Linked DNA regions of Homo sapiens: region 1 is linked to region 2. Evidence: fine-mapped expression QTL. Tissue or cell type: whole blood. Region 2 holds a variant in brackets; the other region holds the start of a gene. All regions are shown on one strand. Distances are from middle to middle.

Region 1 (8,155 bases), 33 kb before region 2:
CGACAGAGCAAGACTCCCTCTCAAAATAATAAGCACCAGAAATTGTTATATTTGCTTCAGTAAATAGCTGGTTACATATGTCCTTTTTTGTTTGTCTCCACATGTCTTCTGCATGGGGTGACTAGGTTCTTTGAGGTTCACATAAAAGAGAAAATGAGAGGACTGAAGTATCTATACTCTTGGGGTCCATCTCATTTGGCAGTGCAAGGAAGGGGAATTGGGGTGGATGGGTAGTGCAGAGGTTCTTAATTATTCCCAGGGAGGACATTTAGAGGTCTGTTCCAATTTTATGTGTGTGTGTGTGTGTGTGTGTGTGTGTGTGTGTGTGTGTGTGTTGCCTCAAGTTGAGAGATTATTTCTATTTTTAAAATGTTTAATTTTTCTATTGCATTGTGTTATATTGACAAAGTCTTGCTCACTATAGCCTAGAACTCCTGTGCTCAAATGATCCTCCTGCCTCACTCAGCCTCCCGAGTAGCTAGGACTACAGGCACATGCCACAATGTGGGGCTAATTTTTTTTATAGAGATGGGTGTCTCACTATGTTGCCTAGGCTGGTCTCAAACTCCTGGCCTCTTAACAGTCCTCCCATCTTGGTCACCCAAAATGCTAGCATTACAGGCATGAGACACCACATCTGCCCCCAAATTTTATTTTTAAAATGTTTACTTTTCCAAAATTGTAATGTCGACGGAGTCAAACTCTGTAAAATATTTGAAGAGATTTATTCTGAGCCAAATTTAAGTGACCATGGCCCATGACATAGCCTCAGGAGATCCTGAGAAGATGTGCCCAAGGTGTTTGGGCTACAGCATGGTTTTATATACATTTTAGGGAGCGTAAGACATCAATCAATACATGTTAAATATACATTGGTTCAGTTCAGAAAGATGGGACAACTCAGAGGTGGGGGTGGGGGGATGGACCTGCTGTCACATTGGTATCTTACTGCTACAAAGTGTGTCAGTGTTAAGGTCTCTGTTTTTTTTTTTTTTCCTGAGACAGAGTCTCGCTTTGTCACCCAGGCTGGAGTGCAATGGCATGATCTCAGCTCACTGCAACACCCACCTTCCAGGTTCAAGCGATTCTCCTGCCTCAGCCTCCCAAGTAGCTGGCATTACGGGCCCACCGCTTTGCCTGCCTAATTTTTGTGATTTTACTAGAGACAGGGTTTCACCATGTTGGCCAGGCTGGTCTTGAACTCCTGCCCTTAAGTGATTCACCTGCCTTGGCATCCCAAAGGGCTGAGATTACAGGCATGAGCCACTGCAACTGGCCTCAGGTTTACTTTAGAATGCCCTTGGCTGAGAGGATGGGCCTATTCAGTTGGTTGGGGGGCTTAGAATTTTATTTTCGTTTTATAGTAAGAAGCCAAAGGACACAACAGAGTGAAAAGGCAACCCACTAAGAGGGAGAAGATGGGGCCGGGCATGGTGGCTCATGCCTGTAATCCCAACACTTTGGAAGGCTGTGGCAGGAGGATCACTTGAACCCAGGAGTTTGACACCAGCCTGGGCAATACAGGGAGACCCTGTCTCTAAAAAAAAAAAGAAAAGAAAAAGTGGGAGAAGATATTTGCAAATCCTATCTGATAAGGTGGTTAATATCCAGAATATATAAGGAACCAAAACACAACAAAAACCCATTAAAAAATGGGCAAAGCCAGGAGTTCAAGGCTGCAGTGGGCCATGATCATGACACTGCACTTCAGCCTGGGTGACAAAGCGAGACCCTGTCTCTTAACAAAACAAAATAAAACAAACAAAACAAATGGGTAAAGGACTTGAATAGACATTTCTCCAACAAACATATACAAATGGCATGACCAATAAGCACAAGAAAAGATGCTCAACATCACTGGTCATTAGCGAAAGGCAAATCAAGACCACAGTGAGATACCTCACACCTATTAAGATGGCTACTATACAAAAATAAAAAGATGTCAGTGGAGATGTGGGGAAATTGGAACTTGTGCACTCTTGGAGGGAATGTAAAATGTTGCAGCCACTATGGAAAAGAGAATGGCAGTTCCGCCGGGCGCAGTGGCTCATGCGTGTAATCCCAGCACTTTGGCAGGTCGAGGTGGGTGGATAACGAGGTCAGGAGTTCGAGACCAGCCTGGTCAACATAGTGAAACCCCATCTCTACTAAAAATACAAAAATTAGCCAGGCATGGTGGCAAACGCCTGTAGTCACAGCTACTCAAGAGGCTGAGGCAGGAGAATCGCTTGAACCCGGGAGGCAGAGGTTGTGGTGAGCCGAGATCGTACCACTGCACTCCAGCCTGGGCAACAAGAGTGAAACTCCATCTCAAAAAAAAAAAAAGTACGGCAGATCCTCAAAAAATTAAAAATAGAATTACTACATAATCCAGCAATTCCACTTGTGTATATATATTCAGGAGTTGAAAGCAACAGATATTTGAACATCTGTGTGTATACCCAAAAGGGTTAAAAAACAGATATTTGTATATCCATGTTTACAGTATTATTTCACAGTAGCCAAAAGTGGAAACAACCTGTTATCCATTAACAGATGACTGAATGAACTGGTATATACATAAAATGGAATACTATTCAGCCTTAAAAGAAATTCTGACACGTTACCACATGGATGAACCTTGAGGACATTATGGTAAGTGAAATCAGTTACAAAAAGACAAATGCTGTATGAGTCCTTATATGAAATACCTAGAGTAGTCAAATTCATAAAGACAGAAAGAATGGTAGTCGCTGGGAAGGAGGGAGGGGAAGAATGAGGCGTTACCACTTACTGGGTACAGAGTTTCAGTTTTGCAAGATGAGTGCTGGAGATGGATGGTGGTAATGGTTGCATAACAATGTGAATGTATCTAATACCACTGAATTGTACCTTTAAAAATGGTTAAGATAGTAAATTTTACCATCTTCACAGTTTCCCGAGATTGCAAGGCCAGCAGTTAAAGACAAAAACAAAACTACTTCCAACTGCCCTACAGTGTGCAGACCTTTCCCTTGTCCTGCCCTGAGTAGAACTACAGTTGTCATTCGTGATCCTCCCTTTAAAAAATTATGCTTGTGGCTAGGCGCGGTGGCTTACACCTGTAATCCCAGCATTTTGGGAGGCCGAGGCGGGCGGATCACCTGAGGTCAGGAGTTCGAGACCAGCCTAGCCAACATGGTGAAACCCTGTCTCTGCTAAAAATACACATTAGCTGGATGTGGTGGTGCGCGCTTGTAGTCCCAGCTGCTCGGGAGGCTGAGAGAGGAGAATTGCTTGAACCCGGGAGGCAGAGGTTGCAGTGAGCCGAGCCGAGATCGCGCCACTGCACTCCAGCCTGGGCAACACTGTGAGACTCTGCCTCAAAAAAAAAAAAATCATGCTTGCGTTTCATGGCGAATGTTACACATTCAAACTTATCAAATATATTAATAGTAAGAAAATAGGTTTCCTATCCGTTGTATATATTTGAGTTCCAGGCGAGATTTCCTTCGCAGAAAGAGTTCCGCAGATGAAAAGTAAAAGAAAATCCGCGGCGAAAATAACCCGCGCGCAGAGGCCGGTCCCGCTACTAGCCCCGCCCAATCAACGAGGCCAATCAGCGGCCCGCAACGGGGGAGGGACACGCAGCCGTCAGCCGAACAATTCGATGACGAGGCCCAGGAAGCACGCTGAAACCCTGGGCGGCGGCAAGCTGTGCGACCTCTTCTGCGGCCGGCCTGGGCAGGTGTCTTCCTCGAGAGGCAGGCAGGGGATCCCGGACGTGAGTCCGTGCAGTTGGGTGTGTTGTGCGGCGGGTGGGGCGGGTTACCCGCCGTTACGCCCTGGCGGGTCCAGCGGACTCGCGGCGCAGACGCTGGGGAGGCCGCAGGCGCGACCCGGGGCGGGGACCGTGCTAGCTGCGTGCGTCCGCTGCGGCCTGTGGGTGCCCCGGGCTCCTACCTCAGCTCCCGCGCCGGCGGCTGCCTGTCCGCCGCGGTTGCGCGCGTTCCGGGGAGGTGCTTGGCCCAGAGAGCGGCCTACGGAGAAGGCACAGCGAGGGCAAAGCGAGACCTGAGCGCACGTTGAATTCTGTTGGCTTTGGTTATCTCTGAAAACTTTAAGCATAATTTGAATAAATGCTGTCAGCAGAATAGCTCGGATTTAGTTGTAGTTAATTTTCTAAAACTTCAAATCTGTGAATTAACACAGTTAACAACAACAACAAAAACGGACACAAAACAACCTCCAAAATGGATTTTTTTTTTTTTTTTGAGACGGAGTCTTGCTGTGTCACCCAGGCTGGAGTGCGGTGGTGCTATCTCCGCTCACGGCAACCTCCGCCTTCCGGGTTCCAGCGATTCTCCTGCCTCAGCCACCTGAGTAGATGGGACCACAGGTGCGCGCCACCAGGCCCGGCTAATTTGTAAATTTTATTTGTAGAGAAGGGGTCTCCCTGTGTTGTCCAGGCTTGTCTCTGACTCCTGGGCTCAAAGGATCTTCCCATCTTGGCCTCCCAAAGTGCTGGGATTACAAGCGTGAGCCATTGCGCCTGGCTCCAAATCTGATTTGAGTGTAAAAAGTTAGACACACCATAAGCTGTAGGTTTATTACTGGGTGGTGAAAAACAATTCAGGTTTTCTTTATAATAGTGATTATGAAGTGTTCTTCCCAGACTAGCTTTATCGTCATCTGGGAAATTGTTAAAAATGCAAATTCGCAAGTTTGAGAGCCATGGTTCCAAGAAACTGCATAAGCATACGAAATAAGTTGCAGCCTCCCGACTTATACCCTGGTACTTCTAGTCTAAAACAGGATTTGACTCTACTAATCCAGGTTAGTCTTGCCTTTCCCATTACTCATGTGCTTTCGTTGAAACCAAAGACTTTTTCTTTTGTGCCCATTTCTACTCACTGCCTGGCCGTCTGCACGACGATCTGTGTTTCCTGGTAGTTCTCCAGTCTAGTAGCTACTATAAACTACTCTCCCTATTTCCCGCTCTGTGGAGATGTCGTTCCAACAGGTCCTCTCCACTCTAAGACCCTATCCTCTCAGAGAAGCCCCTGAGAGCCATTAGTACTTTTGCCCTGGAGAGGCAGTTTAGGTAGAGCCAGTCTGGGTTCTACCACTTACTAGCTTGGTGGTCTTAGGCAAGTTACTTTGTGTGATCTGTAAAATGAAGATGAGTGAAGATAAGAGTACTACTTCCAGTAGTTTTGTGAGGATTAAATTAATGTAACAGTGCTTAGCACATAGTAACAAAATATTAGCTACTTTTTTTTTTTTAGACGGAGTTTTGCTCTTGTTGCCCAGGCTGGAGTGCAATGGCGCGATCTCGGCTCACCGCAACCTGCACTCTCTGGGTTCAAGCAATTCTCCTGCCCCAGCCTCCCGAGTAGCTGGGATTACAGGCATGCGCCACCACGCCCTGCTACTTTTGTATTTTTAGTAGAGACAGGGTTTCTCCATGGTGGTCAGGCTGGGCTGGAGCTCCCAACCTCAGGTGATGCGCCCGCCTTGGCCTCCCAAGGTGCTGGGATTACAAGCGTGAGCCACCGTGCCCGGCCTTTAGCTACTATTATACATATTATAATTTAAAAATTATTAGTACCGAAGCCTGAGACAGGAGAGAAATGGTAAAAATAGTAGGGACTGCGGGAGAGAGAAAGAGTAGTGTCCCCTGACAAGTACTAGAATGACATAGGTGCCACCATTAAACGAAACTAGCTAGGATGGTTACTTTCGATTAACACTTTGCTACTCAAGAGTGTGGTCTGCGGCATCACCAGGAGCTTGTTAGAAGTGGAGATCTCAGACCTACCTCAGATTTACTGAATCAGAATCGTTTTTTTTTTTTTTTAACAAACTCTTCAGCAGGTTTAGATGTAGCTTTGTTTGGAGGAAGTGTGAGATTCGTTTTAGGATTTCTCAAGGAGTTCCAGCCTTCAATCAGTGACCATGGGGATCTGGCAGGAGGGCTTGAATTTCTAGCTGATTCTTCTATTCTGTCTTACCCTCCTGTCTTCCATCATTTCTGCATTGCTAATCTCTATCCCTGGAGAAATCTATGGAACTGCTGGTTATTACTGTAGAAAGTAACATAGTTGCCAATAGTACGACTTTGTGGATGTCACAGTCAAAACTCAACTGCCTGGCTGGCACAGTGGCTCACCTGTAATCCCAGCACTTTGGGAAGACAAGGCGGCGGGCAGGGGGATCCTTTGAGCTCAGGAGTTCGGGACTAGCCTGGGCAACATAGCAAGACCCTGTCTCTATAAAAAAGAAAAAAAAATCTCAACTGCTTGACAGGCTTTTTATTCACTTCCCTTTGTATAATGCCTCCTGTAGTACCTTTTTTCCCCTCCAAATCTCCGTTTCCCCCATCCTAACCTCCTCACAGTGTTAGAAATGCAAATTACTCTTAATTTCTCTGTCCACTTCATATCATATTATAATATGAAATCTGTCAGTTTCTCTTTTTACTTTAGAAATTTTGTCTTCATCCATCTTCATTCATTTCTATTTATGGAGTATATAACCTCATTGCCTATGAAGAACCCTTCCCGTAACCTTAATTTCATGCACTCCCATCTTGGAGCCTCTCTCCAGTTTACACACTCCCTTTGTCACCTACTTCTTAACCACTTAGAGAATTAGGCTTCTCACTGTCATTCTCTGAAAGGTCATAAATGGCCAACTAATTAACCAATCCAATGGCTTTTTTCCAGACTTTGTTCCTCTCCACTTCTCTGAAGTATTGAATACGCTTGATACCACTTTCTTGAAATTAAGTCCCTCCTTAGTTTTTGCCCATTGCATATTTTGGCTTGTCTTCTATTGCCCTGATTAGCCTTCACTCTCCTCTCTGGTATTTGCTTCTTCCATGGCTTTCTTCCTTAGTTGAACTCTTAATTTTTTCCAATAAAGTATACAGTTATTCAGTATTTCTAAGTATCTCCAGAGCATAACAGTGATTTTAGTGTTTTTTGTTTGTTTGTTTGTTTTTTAATTGAGTCAGGGTCTTGCTCTGTCACCCATGCTGGAGAGCAGTGGCGTGATCTCGGCTCAGTGCAGCTTCAACCTCCCCGGCTCAAGTGATCCTCCCACCTCAGCCTCTCCAAGTAGCTGGAAATATAGACGTATGCCACCACACCCAGCTAAATTTTGTTTCAAGTTTTGTAGAGATGGAATCTCCCTAAGTTGCCCAGGCTGGTGTCGAACTCCTGGGCTCAAGTGTTCCTCCTGCCTTGGCTTCCCAAAGTGCTGGGATTACAGGCGTGAGTCGCCACAACCGGCCAGAAACTATTGTTCTATTTATTTTGTGCAGAGCTTTGGTTGTTCAGGCAGGAGGGTAAATCTGGTCCCTGTTACTCCATCTTGGCCAGGAGTAGGAGTTGGGGAAGTGCTTTGGGAGTATAGAGTCCCCCCTTTACCCTTGGAGTATACATTCTAAGATCCTAGTAAATGCCTGAAACTTCAGATAGTACTGAACCTTGTATATATTCTATGTTATTTCCTATACATCTATTCCTCTGCTAAAGTTTAATTTATCAGTTAGGCACAGTAAGAGATTAACAGCAATAACTAATAAAATAGAAAAATTATAACAATACACAATAATAACAGTTATGTACTGTGGCTGGAATTTTTTCACTTGAGGTGCGACAGCAAAACTAGCATGAATTTCTTTCTCCTCCTGTACAATTTCATGGATACAAGTTTTGTTCTTAACATAGATCTTAGCAACCTCATCATATGAGCTTTTTTTTCTTTAATTTTTTTTTTTCTTTTGAGTTGGATTCTCACTTTGTCACCCAGGCTGGAGTACGGTGGTGTGCTCTCAGCTCTCTGCAACCTCTGTCTCCCAGGCTCAAGCGATTTTCCTGTCTCAGCCATTCAAGTAGCTGGCATTACAAGTGTGTGCCACCATACCTGGCTAATTTTCATATATTTATTTATTTATTTATTTTGAGACGGTGTTTCACTGTTGTTGCCCAAGCTGGAGTGCAATGGCGTGATCTCGGCTCACCTCAACCTCCGCCTCCCGGGTTCAAGTGATTCTCCTGCCTCAGCCTCCTGAGTAGCTGGGATTACAGGCATGTGCCACCACGCTCGGCTAATTTTGTATTTTTTTGTAGAGATGGGATTTCTCCATGTTGGTCAGGCTGATCTCAAACTCCCGATCTTGGGTGATCCG
Region 2 (8,203 bases):
AATTAACAAACACGTTATATATGTAAAAGCTTTTCATTTCATCTTCTCTTTGATATTTACATCCCATAAAGTAAGAAGTGTTTATTTTAAGATGAACAGATGACAGGCATCACTGATTCTGGATAGTTAAGGAGGCCAGTTTGAATTGGGGACATTGAAAAAGAAATTTTATTGTTACAGGCACTTACGGGAACCCACTAACCAATTTACATTGCCTAGTGAATCCACTAGAGTTAAGGCCACCCACTTGATGCCTCCAGCATCTTCATGCAGCCATGGAGTATCGTTACCAGGATCAGTCTGACTGACACCTCAGCTTATCTCTACGCAGGCTGCCCACAGGTCACTGTGGCTGTAGTTTCATCTTTTCCACAGCTATTACTACGCCTGCATCCTTATTGTTCCTTTTACTTTGTTTACTTAGAGAAAACTGAAGACTGCCAGGGCAATTTAGATAACATAGCTTGTTATATTGGTAATCTGTTTTACAGAGTCAGTCGACTGAAAATGACTTTATTCTTTTCCCCCACCAATTGAAGTGCATGGGCTTTTTATAAAACCTATTTTTTGTGTTACTCAGAATCCTAGCAGTGGAGACTATTAGATATTACCATATCTTAATTCATATTATAGCAAATCATATTGTCTTGTCCATAGGAAGTTTGCATTTTTAGAGATCTATACATAGAGAATACCATGATGAGGAAGAAGAGAGTTGGGTGTCTTCCTTAACTGCAGACAGGACATCAGTCAGCACTTTACATTAGTCTTTCTGATTATCAAAAGCATTCCTCATTTTAAACTTTTTAAAAAGCAATGCATAAATTTTGTACCTGTCCTTAGCAGACTTCACAGACATCAGGTGTCCTTTGTTTTAACCATATTCACACTACAAGTTATGTTCAACTGCTTACTAAAAGTGATACCAGTCAGGAATAAAGTCTTTAAATTTTCATGCAGATATTTGTATCCCAAGCACTTGCTTTTTTATTTTAATATGAAATGCAGAATACACATTTTTGGATCCAGGAAGTGTTACTTACGTGCCTGTAACAATGTAATTTTAGGCCAGGTGCAGTGGCTCATGCCTACAGTCCTAGCACTTTGGAAGGTTGAGGGAGGATGATCGCTTAAGTTCAGTTGTTGAAATGCAGAATACACATTTTTGGATCCAGGAAGTGTTACTTACGTGCCTGTAACAATGTAATTTTAGGCCAGGTGCAGTGGCTCATGCCTACAGTCCTAGCACTTTGGAAGGTTGAGGGAGGATGATCGCTTAAGTTCAGTTGTTGAAATGCAGAATACACATTTTTGGATCCAGGAAGTGTTACTTACGTGCCTGTAACAATGTAATTTTAGGCCAGGTGCAGTGGCTCATGCCTACAGTCCTAGCACTTTGGAAGGTTGAGGGAGGATGATCGCTTAAGCTCAGTTGTTCAAGGCTATGTACTAAAAATAAAACTAGCCAGGCATGGTGGTACACGCCTGTAGTCCCAGCTACTTGGAGGGCTGAGGCAAGAGGATCGTGAGGTGGCAGTGAGTTATGATCGAGCCACTGTACTCCAGCCTGGGTGACAGAGCAAGACCTTGTCTCAAAATTATACATGTTAATATATTCTAGTTTAATATTGCAAACATCTTTAGAATTTCATCAGAAACGTGATTTTTTCTAAGAAATGCAAAAGGATTTTAGGATTTTTAACACAGAGGACATGTTTAACAAATGAATCCTGACAGACACCTGCAGTTTAGAATAAATTTGTGAACATCCATGCGTATAAAGTGTCCTCTTGGGACAAGACATGTTCACACTGACTTGGGGAATATGCCCCCAAGGTGAGAGCTGTCTTTTGAACTGTGATCTGACTCTGAAAAGTAGTGAATGCCCCAGGTGATAGACTGTAACTGTGAGTGGAATTAATGCTGCTTGCATGCCTTTTAATCCAAAACCAAATTCTTTTAAAAAATTTTTAAATAAAATTTCACCTTTGTATTCTTTCATTACAGATATCCATTTGGGGATGAAGTCTACTTTGACAGCTAGCAAGGCGACATGCAACTGTTGTTGAATGATGACAGCAATTCAGGAAAGACTTAAATATGAAAGCAAATTGAACACATCGGGTGTTTGTTATCAGAAAAGAGATGAGATGAGATAAGACTTGTTTATTGACTAGCCAATATGTCATTAAAATTAAGGTTTATATTGTGAAGCTTTTTTGAAATTTTACTTTTTTTTGAGAGTTTTGCTCTGTCACCCAGGCTGGAGTGAGGTGGTACAATCTCGGCTCACTGCAACCTCCACCTCCCAGGTTCAAGAGATTCTCCTGCCTCAGTCTCCCGAGTAGCTAGGATTACAGATGTGCATCACCATGCCTGGCTAATTTTTGTATTTTTTAGTAGAGATGGGGTTTCACCATGTTGGTCAGGCTGGTCTCGAACTCCTGACCTCAAGTGACCCGCCCTTGTCGGCCTCCCAAAGTGCTGGGATTACAGGCATGAGCCATTGTGCCCAGCCTATATAGTGTGAAGCTTTTAGGAAAATCAGAACAGGGTAGACAGCTGTTAAAAACAATGTTTAAATGGAATAATGTTGAATGTTTACAGGCTGTAAGAACTATTGTATACACAAAATAATACACAAAGTTTGTACTTTGTGTACAAATACAAATTTGTACTTTGTGTACAAATAATACAAAAAGTTTGTATACACAAACTTTTTACGTTGTGGTTTGGTATATTGTCTTAACTGAATTTTCTTATAAGAACCCCATGAAACTTACCTGAGTTTTTAAAATGCTATCCAGGACATCATACCTTATAGTATACATGAAACATAATGTAATCCAGGTTGTAATTTAGAACTTTTTTTTTTTTTTTAGCTGAGCACTTAATGTAATTAATTCCAGGTTATGACTCTTAAAAAACATTGGCCATTAGAGAAATAGTTCTATTTGCCCATCCAAATCACCTGAATGACTTTTTGAAAGAATAGGGGTCCACATCCCCAGATCCCATCCCAGCTGTGCACAGTCTGAAGCAAGCAGAGTGAAACAAGTTGGCAACTTGTTCCAAGCGTGGGCCTTTGCAGTCTGTGATCCAGTGTTACTCCAGGTCCCAGTCTGTCCCATACTTGTCTTTTGCTACAGTTAGTTAGTTACTTTGTTATCATCCCCTTGTAAACTGCCTTCAATATCTGGGATAAGGAAGACAAAGCTTAATGACAACTAAGGTTCTAGCTGACATCTTTCTTTCATATTTAATTTTTGTGAGTTTTCATCTGTTTTCTGTTTGTTTATGTGTCCTAGGTTCTTGACCTAACCA[C/T]ATGGGTTTTGTTTTTTGTTTTTATATTAGAACTTAGAAAAGTTTGTTTTACAGCAGTATTATGGAACAGAAGAGACCATTTTAAATAATTTTTTTAAACAGCCCAAAACACACAAAAGATACTTGTTTTCTAGAGACAGGGTCTTGCTCTGTCACCCAGGCTGGAGTGCAGTGGCACGATCATAGCTCAGTGCAGCCTCCACCTCCTGGGCTCAAGTGGTCCTCCTGCCTCAGCCTCTTAAGCAGTTGGGACTACAGGTGTGTGCCAGCATGCTTGCTGTTTTTTTTTTTTTTGAGACAGAGTCTTGCTCTGTCACTCAGGCTGGAGTCCAGTGGCTTGGTCTCAGCTCACTGCAATCTCTGCCTCCCAGGGGTTCAAGTGATTCTCCTGCCTCAGCCTCCCAAGTAGCTGAAACTACAGGCGCATGCCACCATGCCCAGCTAATTTTTGTATTTTTAGTAGAGACAGGGTTTCACTATGTTGGCCAGGCTGGTCTCAAACTCCCGACCTCAAGTGATCCGCCCGCTTCGGCCTCCCAAAGTGCTGGGATTACAGGTGTGAGCCACTGCGCCTGGCTGCTGATTTATTTTTCATAGACACGGGGGTCTATGTTGCCCAGGTTGGTCTTGAACTCCTAGCCTCAAGCGATCCTCCTGCCTCAGCCTCCCAATGTGCTGGGATTACAGGAATGAGCCACCATGCCCAGCCCAAGAAGTAGAGTTTCTTTTATACTGACTTTGGCCTAAAAAAACAGATTTTCATGGAGGAAAAAAAAACCTAGATTTTTAGTAAGACTATTTTATATACTTTTTTACATTGATCAAGTACATTATTTTTACCAAACAACATTGTTTCCCACTACATCCATGGTTATGTATAAAAAAACGCCATTGTCAATTAAGATGTTAAAAAATTATTTCCATAAGAGTATTAAATTCTAATCTATGATTCACTTAACTTCCTACTTTATAAACACTAGGTAAAGTAATCTCACAAGCTGCCAAAGAACACATCCCAAGCAGTAATCACAGACGATGAAGCACCTTACAGGACCCCTCCACCCTCAAACGCGCATGTCCAGAGAAGTATTAATGCCTTAATAGACTACTGAAGGTTAACTATTTACATCATTCTAAAAATATTTTAAGCTGTATTACAGTGCTATAAATTCTCCTTTTAAGGAAAAAAGTAATAGATTGTTTCCTTACCGTGTTTGAAAGGAAAAAAAATAAATCCATAGTAACTAATGGTCTGCCGATTTTTTCCCTGAATTTTTAAACTCCAACAAAGCATTATTTTGCAAAAAGTCCTTTAGCCCAAAGTCAGTGTCTCTGTTTTGATCTCTTTGTAAAAGAACTCTCTGTTCATCCATTCTCTTTCCCTGGGACCGTAAAATAAGGCTGAAAAAGTCTTCATCTGGTACTGTCGGACCCTTTGTGGTAGCAGGTGGTGGAGCACATCTTTGATCATCTAATCTGGATCCCTAGAAGTTTATGAGAGAGATTAAAAGACATACTGTGGGAAAGAAAGCACCAAGCTATGTTAAATCTCTCAGTCACAACAAGAAAACGCAGTTGTAAACTTTTATTTGGGGCTTCTCAGAAATTAATCTTTGTTTTTATATTGTTCTCTTTAGTTCCCAGCCTGATTTCTGAAAGAAATAATCTTTAAACCTGAAACTGCATAAAATTTTTCCTTTAAAATGGCTTATATAGGTATAGCTGCTTCATTGGTTTAGTACGTGCATTATGTTAAGTCATACTGTTTTAATTATAATTGGTCACAAGGATAAAAGACAAGGTCAACTGTATCTAAGTATGACAGTTCAAGGTTATAATCTAACAGGCATCAACTGTGTAACTTAACAAATCTTTAGAAATATGTACAAACCCCATGAGGAACTACCTTAAAAAAATCACGTCTTAGGCTAGGGGACAGCAAACTGTAACCCAGTGCCGGCTTCTGTAAATGAAGTCATTTTCATTTTCCCATCAATACATATGTTTATATACTATCTATATGGCTGCTTCCCTACTAAATGGCAGAGTTGGGCAGTTGCAATAGATACCATATGGGCGGCAAAGCCTAAAATATTTTCTATCTGGCCTTTTACAGAAAAAGTTTGCCTGCCTCTGTCTTAGGCTGTTAAATCTGTTAAGAAATAGCCCAGAATGAATTTTTTTTTTTTTTTTTTTGAGACGGATTCTCGCTCTGTCATCCAGGCAGGACTGCAGTGGTGTGATCCTGGCTCACTGCAACCTCCATCTTTCAGGTTCAAGTGATTCTTCAGCCTCAGCCTCCCAGTAGCTGAGACTATAGGCATGCGTCACCACACCTGGCTAATTTTTGTATTTTTAGTAGAGATGGGGGTTTCACCATGTTGGCCAGGCTGGTCTCGAACTCTTGACCTCAAGTGATCCACCCGCCTTGGCCTCCCAAAATGCTGGGATTACAGGCATGAGCCTGGTCTCTGAATTTTTCTTTCAAGTTTGAGTATTATGATTCTTATATTAGACATGCTACTTGTCAAAAAATACATGCACTTACAAGTATACACCATAGTTTCTGGCATTGTAGCTCAAGAGTAAGAATAGAAGTGTGATAGCTGATATTTGAATATGCACTACATTGTTAGGGACTGTGATAAGACATAGATCCCTGAACATTTAAGCCCACAACCCTCAGAGGGTGCAGTTATTTACTGCCCTCCTAAGTGAGTGCCACCTCCACACATACCTGGCTCATTCATTTCTCCTGTCATAAATTGATAATTTCAATGTCCTCCAATTAACCCAACACTTGGGCACTTAGTTCCTAGACTTCCTCACTTAGTTCCTAGACTTCCTCTGATTGAATGTCCTCATCCTTCACTTCGGCCTTAGCCATTTGGCTCCCATGGTCATATTCTAGCCTCTTGTTATCTCTATAGAAATGCCTCTTCCAGTTCTTTGCCCATTTTTGAATCAGGTTGGTTTTTGTTGAGTTTTAGGAGTTTTCTATATATTCTGGGTATTAATCCTTTATCAGATATGTGATTTCCAAGTATTTTATGTTGGGTTGCCTTTTTACTGTTGATAATGTCCTTTGATGCACAAGTTTTTAATTATGAAGTCCAATTTGTCTACGTTGTTGTTGTTGTTCCCTGCTCACTCTTTTGGTTTTATAACCAAGAAATCACTGCCAAACCCAATGCCATGAGGCTTTCCTTTTTTTTCCCTTTAGAGACAGGGTCTCACTCTGTGGCCTAAGCTGGAGCACAGTGACGTGATCATGGCTCACTGCAGCCTTGAACTCCTAGGCTCAAGTGATCCTCCCACCTCAGCCTCCTGTGTAGCTGGGACTACAGGTGTGTGCCATTAATTTAAAAAAATTTTTTTATAGAGATGGGGTCTCACTATGCTGCCCAGTCTAGTCTTGAACTCCTGGGCTCAAGCAATCCTCCCACCTTGGCCTCCCAAAGTGCTGGGATTACAGGTATAAGCCACCACATGCTCCTCTTGAGTTTTATAGTTTTAGTTCTGATGCTTAGGTCTTTGGCCCACTTTGAGTTTTGCATATGGTATTAGGTAAGGGTCCAACTTCATTCTTTTTGTATGTGGCTCTCTAGTTTACCCAGAACCATTTGTTGATAAAACTGTCTTTTCCCCCACTGAATGGTCTTGGCACCCCTGTTGCATATTATTTGACCACACATGCAAGGGTTTATTTCTGGGATCTGTATTCTATTCCATTGGTCTATATGTCTGTCTTTTATGCCAGTACTGCACTGCTTTGATTAATGTAGCTTTGTAATAACCTGAAATAAAAAAATGTGAGCCCTAAAGCTTTATTCTCAAGACTATTTCGGATATTTGGGGATCCCTTGAGGTTCTATATGAATTTTAGGCTATATTTTCTATTTCTGTAGGAGGAAAAAGTCATTTGGATTTTTACAGGGATTGCACTGAATTTGTAGGTCACTTTGGATAGTATCGAAATGTTAACATTATTAAGTCTTCTAATCCATGAACATGGGATATTGTTCCATTTGTTTTCTTTCATCTCTTTCAGCAATGTTTTGTGGTTTTCATTATACAAGTCTTTGCCTCAGTGATTAATTTCTAAGTATTTTATTCTTTTTGATGCTATTTTAAATGGAATTTTAAATTTCTTTTCCAATTGTTCATTGTTAGTGTATAAACACACAACTGATTTTTGTGTTGATTTTGTATCATGCTACTTTGTTGAACTTGTTGATTACCTCTGTCAATTTTATTGATACTTTGTCCTTTCCAATGTGAATGCCTTTTTTTCTTTTTTTGCCTAATTGCTCCAGCTAGAATTTCTAGTACTACATTGAATAGAAGTGGCAAAAACCTGCATTCTGATCTCGTTCCTGATCTTGGAGGAGAGCTTTCAGTCTGTCACCATTGAGTATGATGTCAGCGGTACATGTTTCATATATGGCTTTTATTATGTTCTGGTAGTTTCCTACTGTTGCTAATTTTTAAGTTTTTATCATGAAAGAGTTTTGAATTGTCATTTTTTTCCTGTATGTGTTTTTTCCCTTTATTCTGTTTATATTATGTGTTACACTGATTGATTTTCACATGTTGAACAATCAGTCCTTGCGTCCTGGGAATAAGTCCCACTTGGTCATGGTGTAAAATCCTTTACAGCAGGGGCGCTGCTAAATTTGGATTGTAGGCTTTTGTTGATTTTGCATCTGGATTCATGAAGGATATTGGTCAGTACTTTTCTTGTAGTGTCTGTCTGGCTTTGGTATTGGCAATACTGGCCTCACAGAATGAGTTATGAAGTGTTCATTTCTTTATTTTCCTTCTTACAGCCTAGATTCTTAAGTCCATTATTAAAATCACTTCCTGGCACATGTCTTCA

Evidence for each region. PIP is the estimated chance that this variant, and not a neighbour inherited with it, causes the effect.
Region 1: it holds the start of CLCC1, and the variant in region 2 is fine-mapped to the expression of CLCC1 in whole blood (INTERVAL, PIP above 0.99).

Annotation. Positions count from the first base shown.
Region 1 is chr1:108,958,948-108,967,102 of GRCh38, reverse strand. CLCC1 (chloride channel CLIC like 1) reads left to right here and starts at 3,619. Exons shown (of 13, transcript NM_001377458.1): 1 at 3,619-3,742; 2 at 4,634-4,794. RefSeq lists silencers at 3,824-4,063, 4,202-4,496 and enhancers at 4,424-4,543, 4,916-5,416, 5,417-5,917.
Region 2 is chr1:108,926,306-108,934,508 of GRCh38, reverse strand. GPSM2 (G protein signaling modulator 2) reads right to left here. Exons shown (of 15, transcript NM_013296.5): 15 at 1-4,808. The coding sequence ends at 4,569. It overlaps CLCC1 (chloride channel CLIC like 1), which reads left to right. Exons shown (of 13, transcript NM_001377458.1): 13 at 2,008-5,004. Among named protein-coding and RNA genes, the nearest start is that of CLCC1, 33 kb to the left of the region's middle. The variant C/T (reference allele first, on the strand shown) is at 3,325.